Regions from separate parts of the Homo sapiens genome. Here region 2 is linked to region 1. A link means that fine-mapping ties the variant in region 1 to the expression of a gene that starts in the linked region. Tissue or cell type: skeletal muscle. Region 1 holds a variant in brackets; the other region holds the start of a gene. All regions are shown on one strand. Distances are between the middles of the regions.

Region 1 (7,385 bases):
GATGGCTGAAAAATGCTAATGGGAGCGCTGAGCTGTGAGGAGAGGAACGCAGAGCTCTGACATGGGTTTCCCAGCAGGTGGGGCTGTGGGGCACCCAGCATTCTGTATGTAGAGCTACTTGCCAAGTTCAAGGCCGACACCAACCCAATGACACTAAGGGAGAGAGGACAGAGAGAGGATCACATACATTGATGATGCACATGAAGAGTGTTCAGATGCCCTGGCCAGCTCCTGCGTTCTGCTCCAGCTGGAACCACTGGGCTGGGCTGGGCCTAGCACCATTAAACCCAGCTGTAGTTGAAGAGATTCTGCCACACCTTCCCTTCCAGAATCTAAGTGCCAACAGAATTATGTGCAGAAGCTCTGATGATTCATTCTCATTCTCAACACAGATTGATAAAAGGAACCTGAGAGCGCCAAGGGATGGTATCGGAAGCGCTATTCAACCATAGAATCTCAGCCATTCAGGGAGAACCTGAGATGTGGGGGAGGAGGTGTCCCCATTGTGCAATGCCCTTTAATTATAGCATTTAATTATGCCAAGCTGGGCACTTACAGGGACGCCTGAGAGTGGTCAAACCTCTTTCAATCCATCTACTTACGTGAGAGCTCCCCAAATCGATGTGGTAATGCAACCATTACCACCATGGAGACAGGCTTCAAACCCACTTATAGCACCTCTCCCTTTAGGGGAACAATACATCTAAAGATGAGAAATTAAACCAGAGGTTTCTCAAGTCAGTGGGCAGGGGATTGTCTAAGCCAAGGTGCTTCTTTGGTTCTGGCCACTGACAGTGGTCAGGACACCAGGTGTGACAGCTGCTCCTGGAGCCAAGGGCACCCTTACCTGGTTGGGGGCCTCTGGCGGCATGGGGGATGGTGACTTGGACTGGAAGGCATCCTGGGATATGAATCCTGAGTCATGGGAGGACACGCTGGACAGCCTCACAGGAGCCTGCTGGGCCAGGTTGGAGCTGCGGTAGCGGTAATGTGAGCTGGGGGAATGCGAGTGGGAGCCGCTGGACCGGGAGTCACTGCTGTTGACACTGTTCAGGCTGCTGTGGAGGACAAGCAGGGGTGAGGGGTGGGCACGGAAGGTAAAGAAAGGGGAGCAGTGGTAAGAGGAAGGAGGAAGGAGGGGAACAGATGAGGCAGAAGAGAGAGAAGCACAACATAATGCAATTAGCTCTCTGCCCTGGAGATGCAGTGCAAACCACAAAACACGTTTTCAAAACACCAAATCATGAAGGTAGTCAACAAAATGCTTTTCCAGGTGACCCAGGGGGAAATACAGCTGCCAGGACTCAGGTCTCCGATGGTAACCATGTGGCATTCTTACGAGGGAGGTCTGGGGTTCTAAAACGTCAAGTGCGCCCAACTCTGCTGCTTCGCCTACCACCAAAACGAGGGGAGCTGATGTCAGTAGCAAGAAAAGGGACAGGGTTAATCTGCCTGCAGGAACCATGAGCCTGCAGCAAAAGTCCACTGGGGCTTCAGCATGACTGGAATGTTCTTGGATGGACCATCTGGGTCCACATGACCAAGGCCAACCCAGCTAAGCACTGCCGATGGATTTGCTGAGGTGATTTCATCCTAGCTGAGTCTGGTCAAGCCCGCTGTCAAGAACATCAGCAAATCAACTCACTATGTTGGTGTGCATATGTTTTACCTTTTAACAAAGTGATGCTTTAATTAATGTTTTTACTCTGACCCCAGCTGTTTCTGTGTTAAAATATCTGTGGGTCTGGCACAATAGCACACTTGGCAAGAGGCAGGCAGCTTTCAGCGACTAAGGGCAATCAATGCTCAGCTGTTTGCTCTTGAAATGGCACAGTAAACAGGATGTCAAATAATGACACACCCGCTCTGGATTTCTGTCTGCCTTCCATCTCCACTCAAAAGAAACATGCTCCTGGCCAGGTGCGGTGGCTTACGCCTGTAATCCCAACACTTCAGAAGGCCAAAGCGGGTGGATCACCTGAAGTCAGGAGTTCAAGACTAGCCTGGCCAATACGGTGAAACCCCGCCTCTGATAAAAATACAAAACTTAGCCAGGCATGGTGGCAGGCACCTATAATCGCAGCTACTTGGGAGGCCAAGGCAGGAGAATCACTTGAACCCAGGAGGCAGAAGTTGCAGCGAGCTGAGATTATGCCACTGCACTCCACCTGGACAACAGAACGAGACCCGATCTCAAAAAAAAAAAAAAAAAAAAAATGCTCCACACTCTGTATAGTAACTTAGATCATAAAAAGCAGAAAACAGACTCCCATGGTCCAAACAAACGGAGCTGAAATAAAAAGAGCAGTTGTAGAGGCAGCAGCAGGGATGAAGTAAATAACTAGGGCTGGGATAGGAAAAGTCATGGTTTCTGCTCCTAAGCCTGCAAGAGACTCTGGCTTGCAAAATCTGGCAGCTAATAAGGTACTCAAGGGCCGCGTGACTGTTCTACACTAGAATTACTTGGTGCAAATGTTCAGACAGACATAGGGGAGCGTGCTGGAGGAAATCGCTGCAGTGAGGAATAAATATCATGATTTTTGACTTTCCCCTCCAGTCAGCCAGAAGGCGGCAGTTGGGGACCGACAGTAAAGCTCACAGCAACTCCACCCCGGCAGCCTCAGAGTTGCAGATGTCAGTGCAACATGGTTTTCTACTCAAACTAAAATTATAAGGAAGAAAAAAACAGCCACGCAACTTTGTTTTACACTAATGAGAGATTTTTCTTGGCAACAATAAAAAGGTCTCTCTTTCACTCACACACACACACACACACACACACACAGTCGACAGAAGATAAGAAACAAACCAATATCTTCAGGGGGCAGAATGTCCAGGATGCAGCGTCTTAGGTCTGAACTTCCTGCTAAGTGTGTAGTGTACAAGCTCCGCAGTGAAAGGAAATAGGCATCAGCGTGCACCAAAACATCACCACAGACAGATTGAGCAGATACATCCTGCCCTCTACTCTCAGTGCTAATACACAGGAAGTGGAAACTCATTTGGCTTTGAAAGTTAAATTAAAAGAGTAACAGGACTACTATACCAAGAGAGATAGATGGTACATCATGCTTCCATCTTTCAAGGAGAGGAAAAGAAACTTTCCTACTCGGCAAGCCAAGAACTGACTTCTAACAGAAAATTGCTAGACAACAGTTTTGCAGATGGCAGAACTATTCCAACAGATTTTGTTCCAATAGGGAACAGTACTAATTAATACAGGTGTGGTCGTGGTAGTGGTGGTAGTAGTAGCAGTGACTGACAGAGCAAGAACTCTATTTACTTTATGAAACCCTGAAACAAAAATATGGGGTGAAATGAGGGCATAAGCCATTGTTACTTCCTTCGTTTGTTCTGGCAACAGTGAGATCAGCCTGTGTAAAAATCAACCCAGGTTCACCATTTTTTAGGCCTTAGAAGGTTTTCACTCTGCTAAACAGGAAAATCAAATGTGATCTCATAGAATAGGAAAATCCCTACAACATACAAGTGAGAGAGAATAAGCTACATCCACAAGTCAAGGGCTAATGGGGTTTTCTTTCTGATCCAAAATTAATCCAGAGACTAAAGAGCAAGACCAAAATTATTACCATTCTTTCAGCTCATCATCCCATTTCCTGTTTGAGAATGAGCCATTCTAAGAGATAAGGACTGGCTCCATTGCTCACATTAGCATAAAGAAAAATGACCCGT[C/G]CTGAAAGCAAGAGTGGACCCCGGCTTCACTCACCTGCAGACACTGGACTTTCTGGACATGGTGGTGCTGGGGGAAGAGGGTGGCGTCTGATACGACCAGCTGTAATCAGAACCTTTCAAGTCCAGAATCACCTAAGGGGACAGAGCCAGCTGGGTGAATGAGGTGCTGAGAGGGGAAGCGTTAGCCATCAAAGCTTAACATCCACCAAAGCATCAAAACGCTGCCATCGTGGGGGTGGGAATGAAAGCAAAACATGTTAAAAAAATTTTTTTTAAATTGAAGAGCCACAGTACCAAATCCATCAATATCATAATCCTTTTACTGAGAAAGTAAAACTATAATTAATAGGGAGAAGGAAAGGAAGGGAAAAGGAAAATCATGAAATATCAGTCGAGAGAGGGAGAAATACAGTGACCAATTAATAATTTATAACAGCCATTTATACCCAAGGCTAGAATTTACAGGATTTTCCTCTTGTAATGCCATAAAGTTAATCATGGTTCCCAGACTTGTTGGTAGCGCATTTTAACCACTTGATATTCAGTGGTCATTTCTGCCCTATTTGACCAGCACTAGAAATTTTAAAGCCTGACAGAATCAAGAACAAGCCAATTCTTTCACCATTATTTCTATATCTGTCTCCGTTGCTTGACAAAGGACCACATGAGTATAAGGTCCACCTTTCATTCACATAAGAAGCACTCAGTAAATGTTTATTTGTCAAGTGAATGCATGCATGCTCTGGTCTAATAAATATAATTTGATAGAATAGAAAACATGAGCTCCCAAATTTGCCCTCTGAGCCAGCTCTCCAAGGAGACGAAAAGATTGTTACCAAGCACAAAAGCCAGCATGTGATTCATCAGTTCCCCCAAATATGTCTCTTCCCATAGTGTGCGTGTGATGTGAATTAAATGAATAAAGCATAAAAATGTCATCTTTTTCATAAGATGAGAGAGCTCTCCATGCATTGCTCAATTAGAATGGGAGAAATGGAGAATGGTTGACAGTGTCAATCAAAACACACCAGCGACGTGTTCTTAGGAGGGTTGACTTCTAGAGGGCAGATGAACACAGCAATTAAGTGCATGGGATCTGGAACCTGACCAACTTGGTTCAAATATCAGTTCCACTACCTGCTAGCTAGCTGAACCTGGCTAAGTGACTCCATCTCTCAGTGCCTCTGCATCATTCTCTATAAAACAAGCATAATCATGAAGATGAATGGAGGAAGTCAGGCTATGTAAAGAGCTTGGGACAGTGCCTGACACACAATAGGTTCTATGTAACAGCTCGCTGTGGTGATTTCATATATTACATCATGAAGGACGTGGTGAATATGACTACAATTTAAGACGTGACACATGCCACAGGAACACTCAGGGCCTTGAGCTTTTACCTCTTTGGTTTGATCCTGTAAGTGCTTAACCCCTGAAGCCTACCTGTTCACTTGAGGAGGGCAGTTTGTGAGGGTCCATGGTCAGGCTTTTTAGATCTTCCGAGATGGTCTGAAGGTGGGTTATTTCCCCTAGCATTGAGATTTCTTCTTCCTGAAGGAAAAGTCATTCATGAAATGTTATTATCATGAGTGATTCCCTTCATCGCTCTAGTCCAATTGTTTTCATTAGGGTCTCTGTATAACCCTTTCAGTTTTTCAGAAAAGGCACTGTTGGGACTGGCAAATCTTTGCTGAAGGCACTACATGCCTTTTCTTTTGGGAAATGAGATGGAAAAAGAAATCTGCCATAATGGAGGAGTGACCTGTGCACAGGGGACAGTGGGGAACACACAGGCCTCCCTCCCAGGGCCTGGGGGACTGCCAGGCCTGCTCAGATGGTCTGACTGTGTGTTCCCACGGGATCCTGCAGCACAGCCCTCTTCATACTGTGGCCCTTTTCTGAAGTTGCTTAGCTTCAATGGATGACACGACTTGGATATATTTTGGTCCAGATCTTTGTGACAGTGCCTGTGTGTTCAACAGAAGCTAACTTTTCCCCTTCTTTCTTGTGCTTTTCCAGCAACTTAGTAAAAGACAAGTAAGACAGGAGCTGGGGACCATGGAAGAAACATCCCATGTGCTTTATCGAAGTGCCAAGTTGGGACCACGGGCCGGGCTAGAACGATCCATGGAAAAGTTCTGTGCTCAGGGGAACAACTCAAATTCAGACATTTTGCTAGGGCTAAGGGAAATGAGCTGGTACCTTCGAATCAGCTTCCAGAACGCCTGCAGTGCAAGTTCTCAATTACGGCATGCAAATGATTTCCTTAAAAATTAAGTCTAAATTGATTCATTGAGGCTCTTGGATATTCATCTCATGGTCACCCCTTAGTACTCGGCTACAACAGTGAGTCTCAAAACCACCTGGAGTGCTCCTTTAAAACACAGACGACTGGGTCCCCACCCCCAGAGGTTTGGACTTGGTGGGTCTGGGTTGGGCCCAAGAACTTGCATTTCTAGCCAGTTCCCACGTGATGCTGCTGACCTGGGGACCTCACTTTGAGAACCACCCTGCTGGGCCTTCTTGACTTGGTGAGACAAAGTAACGGGGAACAAGTGGTACTAGAACAGTGAATGAGGAGTGAGCTACATGGCCATCAACTTGCACTGAATCGCTGGTCTGTACAGGAGATACCACCATCATGATTCCTGACAGTAGATTCTCCATGACTCAACAGTGGATGGATAAAATTAGAAGGAAGCCACCTCTACACCAGCAGTTTAAACCTTCTGGAGTTTTCCATTAACTTACAATCACTGGCCGCAGCATAGAGATGAAGGTACAGAATCGGCCACGTTCTTCAATCAAAGCCTTCCGGACAGCCTGCTTTTCTGTTTCTTCCAATAAGAGATACTTATCATTGACATCTTGGAGAGCACTGTCCAACTGAGGCTGGATATCACCTCTCCCTGCAAAAAACAGAGACCCAAGCACGGCTTGCTGAAATACCAGCTTCTGGAACAAGTGCCCCTCCTCCCTGGGGTCCTTGCTGGAGTCAAAACCACAATTTTCCAGGATGTAAAAAAAGTATTTATTCATGCCCCAAAAGGATTTAAGGCAGCTGTTTTTCTAGGACCAGCCATTTCCAATTTTCAATGCCCAAAGGGCACATTTAGCCTGGCTTATTCCTGACAAGGAAAATGTCCTGGGGCAACTCTTCATGACTTGCCTTCTCACACTGCACAACCCCCACCAACTCTTCTGCCAACACAACCCTGGAACACAGAGCCAGACAGCATTCTTTCCTTGCAGAACATTCTGAAGAGGCTAAGAGATGTGGAAACAAGGTAAGAGCCTGTGGGTGTTTCCAAAAACGGGCACGGGCTGGCTTTGTTGGGTCAATCTCAATCAAAGAGCCTCTGTCTGGATAGAAGGATCTGCTCCTAAAGACAAAGGTGGCAAGCATCCGCTCTCCTGGCTCTGGGGGCCCATGGGAATCCTTGGCAGTTCCTTTGACTCTCTAGTGGAGAGTCTTGAATGCTCTTGCTGTAGAACAAGCCCAGTAATAACAAGACCTCCAGACAGGTCTCTGATGATGAAAAACTGAAAGTGGGGTCTATGCGGAGCCTGGCCCATGTTTAGGAATTATCTGGCCAGGTCCACAGACCCCAGTTAGGTGCAGGCAACCACTTCTGGAGTTTAAGACAGGGTGTTAGTCTTTTGAATGACTAACACATGGTCAGCAAACCATC
Region 2 (7,385 bases), 160 kb after region 1:
ACTGCCTGAAAAGGATAAAACCCATGCCCTGACAGCCAGCCGAGGACTTAGATGAAGCATCTTTAGAGGAAAGCACAAAGAATCCTCTCTCTCTTGCTTTTCCATGTCTTGAGGTTCTCTGGTTTCAGAAGATGGAGGGTGCCAGGCCTTGAAATTATTCCTTTTATTGTTTTCTTTTTTTCTCCAAAGAGGAAATTGACTCCCTTCCTGTGCTGCTGTACATTTTGAAGAATCAAATGCTACTAATAAAACCATTTTCCTTATCCTTTTCTCACCCAGCCTAACATCACTTCTGAGAAAATAACCTAAAAATTTTTATCAAGATGGCATTCCAAATGGGTTTCCGACATTTACGCTTTTCCCTCAGAGCAAACAGATAGGAGACCAAAGGCATTATAAACCCATTATGGGAGTTTAAAGAAGAGAACAAGAGGATAAGCAGGTCATTAGAAAGTCAGTTGATTTCAGATATTAAAAACTGACTTTTGTTGCTGGTGACTTCATGCATCTGCACACTATATACTGCTTATCAGATCTGTTCAAATTTAAAAATTTTTAATTTCCATTTAAAATGTCACTGTCATCTAATCCATGATGAAGTCTTTTAAGAAGCAAAGTCCAAGAAAATATTCAAGAATTGTCTTATGCATAAACAATCTTGGAAATCAGACATTCCCTCTCTCTTCATCTCTCGAGTCTCCAAAAGTCTAAAACTCTGCAGAACCCAAGGCATGTTTTAGTCTTCCATTCCACCTTGCTTTTAAAATTTTACTGCCAAAACAAACAAACCAAAAAAAAAAAACTTTAAAATAAATGATTTCCCATAGGATACTGAACAAACCTACTAAACTCAAACCGAAAGAAGTCAGGATACACAAACTCTAGATTCCGCCGTGACTGGGCATTAAAGAAAATGTCTTTATTTTTAACTGGAACCATGCAGGGGAAAAAACACCACCTTGGCACCCGTGAGTCCCCAGCCAGGGCATAGTGCCACGCAGCCACAGGATGGCAGGTGGAAAGCAGGACAGCCCACCCTTTGGGCAGGTCACCTTCTGAACGGCTTTCGATTCAAACAGTGAATGGGAAGAACCGAGCCTGGATTCTGGATTAAAGAACAAAGAGAAAAAACTCCAGATGTGATCACTCCAGGACTACAGTGGACAGATCCGTCAGTGTGCACTGGGGGCAACAGAATGAAAGGGGCTGTCTTTCAACAGGGAATAATCCATCTAATTCCAAGTGCCTGGACTATAAGCATTCCTGGGCAAGCAGAGTCTGGCTGCAGATTATGCTATGCTAAGGACAATTTGTGACAAAAGGCACGAGAGCTGTAGAAAGATTTCAAAATGGACAAAACCAGGACAGAGGCAGCTTGATAAAGTTCACCCTGGGTGAGGTGGCAGTTGGTTCTGAAAGGTGGAAGCAGGCCATGACAGCTGAGCATTCCTTCCCAAAGACCATCTCCGAGGCACGAAGCCTCTCTAAACCTTACACTTCATCAGACAAAAGCTCCTCCAGGCGCCCAGGCAGCGGCTGAAGAGGGGCTGTCCACACCCACTCGGTGCACAGCTTTCCAAACCTGCCCACTCGTTTTGGAAGCGAGCTTTTAATTAAACACCACCTCCCCGGATCTGGATCTGTTGAGGCAAACTGGGGCTGGGCCAGAGCCAAAGAGAAGCTCCCTAAATACACATTAAAAAAATAATTTCCCCCACCGCTCCCAATTCCCACCTCCAGCCAGCTCGCGCGGCTGGTTTTATTTCCTCTGGATGAATAACACGGGGCCCTGGTCTATCTCTAGGCACCAGAAAATCCACATCCGAGGATCAGGTTATCCCCAGTCCCACCCTTTGCAGGAAAAAACCAGGGTGTTGTTCCCCGCCCCCACGCGCGCGCGCGCACACACACATGCACGCGCGCACACACACACCATCTTCACAACCCTTCCAAGAGAAAACCTAGAGTGTGTGTCCGTTTGGGTCTGGGAGGGCAGGATACAGTTATTTCGGGGGCCCCAATCTTGCCTTTAGGCTCAGCTGGGAGAAGGCGGGGCCCCTGCAAGGCTGCCCGGGAACTTCGGCCCCGCGCCCCGCGGGAGGGCTAAGAGAGGGCACGCACACCTTTACCAGCTTCGGAACGGCCCAATTAATAACTAATTTGCTCAGATACCCCACTCCAAGTAGACCTGACAGCCAAGGAGGGACTGGCTTTCCCTCTCAGTCTCCTAGGCTAGGGGACTCCTTCCTGCGAGCGGGCAGAGCCCCCACTTCCTCCCCACCACCGCGCCAGGCGCCCCCACCCCGTGCCCGGAGGAATCAGGTGTCCTCCCGGGCATCCAGCCCCCGCGGGTCCCAGACACTTACTTCAGGGACAGACAATGGGAAAACTTGCAGCCAGTGCCTTGAGCCCCCGAGGGAAAGAAATGGTGCCGCCCCCTGGGACAATGAGCGGGGGAGATGGCGTGGGACAGCAGACACCCCCCAGAGAAGCCACCCGCCCAGTGACCCCGCAGAGCCCGGAGCAGCGCCCCGGGTGAGCAGGTGACACTCCGGCCGGGAGCTCCCGCAGGTGGCCGGTGGCCACACTGCAGGGAAGGGCCGGGTGCCCGGCCCGGGGTGGAGGCGAAGCGCGGCGGCGAGGTCAGAGCGCGGCGGCCGGCGCCGCAGCCGCACCCCCGGCGTCCTACCTTCATGTCGCTGATGATGGTCTGGAAGAGGCCTCCGAGCGCGCTGCATTCCTTCTCAATCACAGCCTCCATTTTCCCGGCTCCGGCAGGGCGAGGGCACACACGCGGGGCCGCTGGACTGCGCGCGGGGCCGGGGCTCGCTCACCCCAGAAGGAATTTCACCTTCCGAGAGACCCACCTCGGACTCGCAGCCTCTTCTGCAGCGAGGACGGGGTGCACCAGACCGACTGTTCTCTGCCCAAAATAATAACAGTAATTTAAAAAGCCAAACCGCTCTGTAGGGTATTCGCCTACAAGCAGCGCTCGGCTCCTGGCCTTAAAAATGCCGGGAGAAGACTGACAATCAGGCCACCACTGGTGCCCACTACGGAAACGGCAAAGCCCATCTTGATGCAGAGAAAATCGCCCGCTGACCCGGGGCCAGCGCCATTGAAAAACGCAAGATTTTCCAATTTAATAAATTTTTCTGCAATTAAAAAAAAATCGCCCAACAGCAGAGCGGGTCAGCTCGCGGCGTCCGGATCTGTTGCTCGCAGCTGCGGCCGCCGCCTCCTTTTCACTCCTGCGCGCCCGGCCCCGGCGCTCGCTCTGGCTGGGCTCCCGGGGACGTTCGGAGGGGCGCACGCGCGCTCGCGGCCGTGCCCGCCAAGCGGAGGCGCGCTCTCGCGGCCGTGCGGCCGCCGCACGCGGGCGGGGCTGGGAGCGCGCGCCCGAGAGGCGCGTGGGGCACCCGCCGCAAAGAGGAGCCTGCTGGTCTGCTGGCGGGCAGGCGGCGCTGGGCCGGAGCCTCTCCCTCCGGTGCGCACAGCGCACCCTCTCCTCCCCCGGCCGCCCGTCGCAGCGCGGAGAGGGCGTGTCGGCACCCTGCCTGGCGAGCGCCCACCCCTACAATGGCTGCGAGCGCGCGGGACGGAGGGTGCACCGCCGCTCCCCGGGGACTTGCACGGGTGGCGCGCCTAGCCCAGAGCCCGCTTGTAGTGAGCGCTCAGTAGGGCGGGAAAGCTGCTGCCGCTACTGCGGCCTTCTGAGAAGACGCCCATTCTCTGATGTCAGGACTGCATCGCCGAGTCCTGATTGCAAATAGCGAAATATATAATTAAGGAGAGTTCGGGGGCGTATCCTGCAATGGGATGCCGAGTTCGATAAAGTTGCAGGATGCTGGGAAAGTGGATTGATTTGCTGTTGCTAAATGAATGGAAACAGCGTTAGAGCTTCTGTCCACGATCCATCAGTCTATCGAGATTGCTGATTGCCTATGACTTGGACGGTTGATGGTTTTCAGGCCCACTGAGAGCAGCCAGCGTTGGTATAACCGCAGGGAGCCCTCCTGGGAGGTTGAACCTGCAGAGCGCAAATGTGCCCAGGTTGATTTGGGGCCTAGTGGTCCATTTTCACAGCTCCACTGCCTATCTGCATAACCAGGAGCCCTCATTCAGATGAACGCCAAATGGGCCAGAGGGAGGAGAATCAAATGAGCAACTTTTAAAAGATATTAAGACATAGGCACCTAACTCCGGACAGTTCCTTTAACCCTTGAGCTAACCATTTGAAGCACAAAACATAACAAAAGAAAAGACTGGGGGGAGTGGGGCCAAAAGAAACCAAGTGCAAAATTCTGTACACTTGTGTCAGATTCACTCCGTAATGGGAAAAGGTCTGGCTTTGAAAACTTTATGGATCAAAGGGATGCATGGAGTTACACAGCACAGCTGCAGAAGATAATGTTCCCCTGGATCACTCTGCCCAACTCTTAACTGCAACCCACCTTCCCCATCCGTCTCCCCGAAATCACCCGGAAGGGTGTTACCTTCAGGAAGTAACTGATCTCTTGATCACCCCTGCTGGATCCTGTCCCCAAGGGCGTTCGAATGCATCCGACTCATCTTCACCTTGCCAATAACGGGTGCTTGACACATCGTTTGCTGCCAATCATTATTGTGATTTTAATACTATTGGTATTCTAACTATCAAGATGACTGCTTGTAGAGCCAGATTGCCTGGATTCAAACTCCAGTTCACAACCTACTAACTGTATGCCTTTAGGTATGTTACTTAACCTTTCTGGGCCTCAGTTTCCTCATCCATCTGTAAATGGGGATAATGATGGCTTCTACCTGATAGGGCTGTTCTGAACATTACATGAGCTGATCGATGAAAGCACTTCAAGTGGTACCTGGCATCTCGTAAGTAATCATTCGATAAATCTTATCAACAGAAGAAGCAGGGATGAGGCCAAGGCTCAGGTCCAGCCCTGGCCCCATTTCACTTCTGTAACATTGGTGTGCTGTCCCAGGCACATTGCTGAGGGTCTACTGTGTGCATTCTGGGCATTTTATACGTATTATGTCTACTTGAAGGAAATTATCATTCTGGTCCTTGTTGCACTGTTGGAAGGAATCCAACCCTGGTTTTCTGACTTCCATGCCCCAGGTCTCTCTTTTACCCAGCCTCCTGAACTCCTGGGATAAGGGGCCTTAGCCCAGTGGACACTTGGTCTAGCTTTCCTGCCACATGCTTAAATTTCAATGCCCCAAATACCCCAACTTTAGCAATGTTTGCCAAAGCATACCTCTCTTGTGGCCTTTTTCCCTGGGCCTGACCACCAGGCCCTTGTCTCTCATGAGAACTCCTTGAAAGGGAGGCTGGAAAAGTGTTCCCAGATGCAGGAAAGTGGGAGTGACACCTGGCAATTTTTTTTTTTTTTTTTTTTTTTTGAGACAGGGCCTCACTCTGTCACCCAGGCTGGAGAGCAGTAGCGCGATCTCGGCTCACTGCAACCTCCACCTCTCAGGTTCAAGCGATTCTCCTGCCTCAGCCTCCATGTTGGTCAGGCTGGTCTCGAACTCCTGACCTCAGATGATCTACCCGCCTCGGCCTCCCAAAGTACTGGGATTACAGGCGTGAGCCATTGTGCCTGGCCAGCTGTCATACATTCTTTCCTTGTTTTCAGATTCTCCTTTGTTTCTGGCTGTTGGGGACTTCCCTTCTTTTAGACTGGCTCTGCATATATTTAAAGAGATTCTGATTACATTTTACCAACTGTGTCTACGTGGCTATGGCAGGAGGGGTTTCAGGTTATAGAATCTGCCTCTGCGACAATAGGGTGTCCCGTTTTTGTTGTTTACATGATGAAATGTTGGGTTTTGTGTAATGTATAATATTTTACACTTTTAGGTAAACTCAGATGCCTCTGATGGATTCGAAATAACCAGATATATTTCTGAATTGCTTCATATGGTATGTAAACTTAAGGTTTTCTAAACTAATATCTTTTTCATGCTCTTTTATTGCTACTCTGACCAGACCCTTATCTTACTTATAAAATATATATTTTTCTCATCATGCTTATATGGTACAGAAAGAGCTAAGCCCCAGAAATACTGTTAATGAGAGGGAGATCAGGTCCTGGACAGTCTTGGTTTATAACTTGCAGCAGGGATATCTGTTCCCCTGAGAGCCCAGTTCTCCATATCAAGGCACTGCAGAAGTCAAATTAGTAGTCAGCAGGCAGCTTGGGAGCACATAAACAAAGCAAAGGAGATTGGATGCTCCTGGGAGGACAGGCGTGGTTTGGTACAAAGCAGGTGCTCAAGAAATGTCTCAGGAATGGAACCCAACCAGGTTCCTACCCCACTAGAGAGCAGACACAATGTCTTGGCGACCTAGAACCATCAGATACAGCCTCTCTTCCTCAAATAGTCCTGGAGAAATACAAAATATTATGACTTCTTTCCCCTTTCGGATCTTCCAACCCCGCTATTTGACTCCCATGATTGGAAGCTACAAACTGGCCTGCAGAGGAGTTTTTAAAATTGGAAAATCTAAAAAAAAAAAAATAAAAAATTGGGAAATCTAAAAATATTTAGAAGTTGGGAAACTTCACCTCAAGGAACAAAGTTTCAGCACTTCCAGGAAGATAGGAACATGTGGCAATTCAGGGCTCACATTCCCACCTGGCCTAGGCCTGGGGGACAGCTGGTCCGTGGGGGGAGAACTTGCTCTTTACGCTCCCCGCCACCCCCCTTCAGCCTTGCTACTAATCAGTTCATCACCTTTCATTGGTTTCCTGCCCCAGTGACACATTCTGGACATTAGGGTTATATTTCGGCATTTTTCAGCCTGCCATCCACAAAACACATACAAAACATCTCTTAGGGTGAGTCAATGTGACAGATATTTTTAATTGATCCTCGCTAATTTCATTTTCAAAAGGGGCCTGTTTCTAAATGGGAACTTTTATATGCTGATAACTCCCGAATTTGTCTAAAGAATTTAATGACTCGATCAGAAAGAATTCTGTTTATAGGTGACCAGGGCGAGCTTAAGCCAATTTTGTTTCATAGATGAGCTATGGTAATGATAAATATACAAATAACTAACCTTTAGTGTATACTTACTGTGTGCCAAGTACTATCTTAAGTAATCTCACTCAATCCTCACAAAGCCTTAGGAGTTAGCACTTCGATTATCCTTATTTTACAGATGAAGAAACTGAGGCACAGAAGGTGGGTCAGGAGGGAGGAAGCAAAAGAGCTAGAATTCAAACATAGCAGCATGACTTCGAGCCCACTGTCTTAACCACTTCAGATAACTGCCTCTAATGCAAAGACCCCTCTCGAAGGTCAGAAGTTTCACAAACACTGCCTTAAGTCTCATGGCTAACTGGGAGGCCCCACAGAGCAACGTGGCTGTGCAT

Which allele goes with the higher level. Alleles are on the strand shown, and positions count from the first base shown. SD is a standard deviation of normalised expression in the study named.
In carriers of allele G in region 1, the expression in skeletal muscle of the gene that starts at base 3,279 in region 2 tends to be lower than with C alone (small effect, 0.24 SD a copy in GTEx).

What was found. PIP is the estimated chance that this variant, and not a neighbour inherited with it, causes the effect.
Region 2: MTSS1 starts here. The variant in region 1 is fine-mapped to the expression of MTSS1 in skeletal muscle (GTEx, PIP 0.99).

Annotation. Positions count from the first base shown.
Region 1 is chr8:124,561,935-124,569,319 of GRCh38, forward strand. MTSS1 (MTSS I-BAR domain containing 1) reads right to left here. Exons shown (of 14, transcript NM_014751.6): 7 at 6,445-6,602; 8 at 5,137-5,244; 9 at 3,728-3,825; 10 at 848-1,058. LOC105375740 (a long non-coding RNA gene) reads left to right here and starts at 6,949. Exons shown (of 2, transcript XR_928608.3): 1 at 6,949-6,980. RefSeq lists a silencer at 42-131. The variant C/G (reference allele first, on the strand shown) is at 3,694.
Region 2 is chr8:124,725,195-124,732,579 of GRCh38, forward strand. It overlaps MTSS1 (MTSS I-BAR domain containing 1), which reads right to left and starts at 3,279. Exons shown (of 14, transcript NM_014751.6): 1 at 2,690-3,279. The coding sequence starts at 2,761. It overlaps LOC105375741 (a long non-coding RNA gene), which reads left to right and starts at 3,345. Exons shown (of 3, transcript XR_002956670.2): 1 at 3,345-4,872; 2 at 5,864-5,926.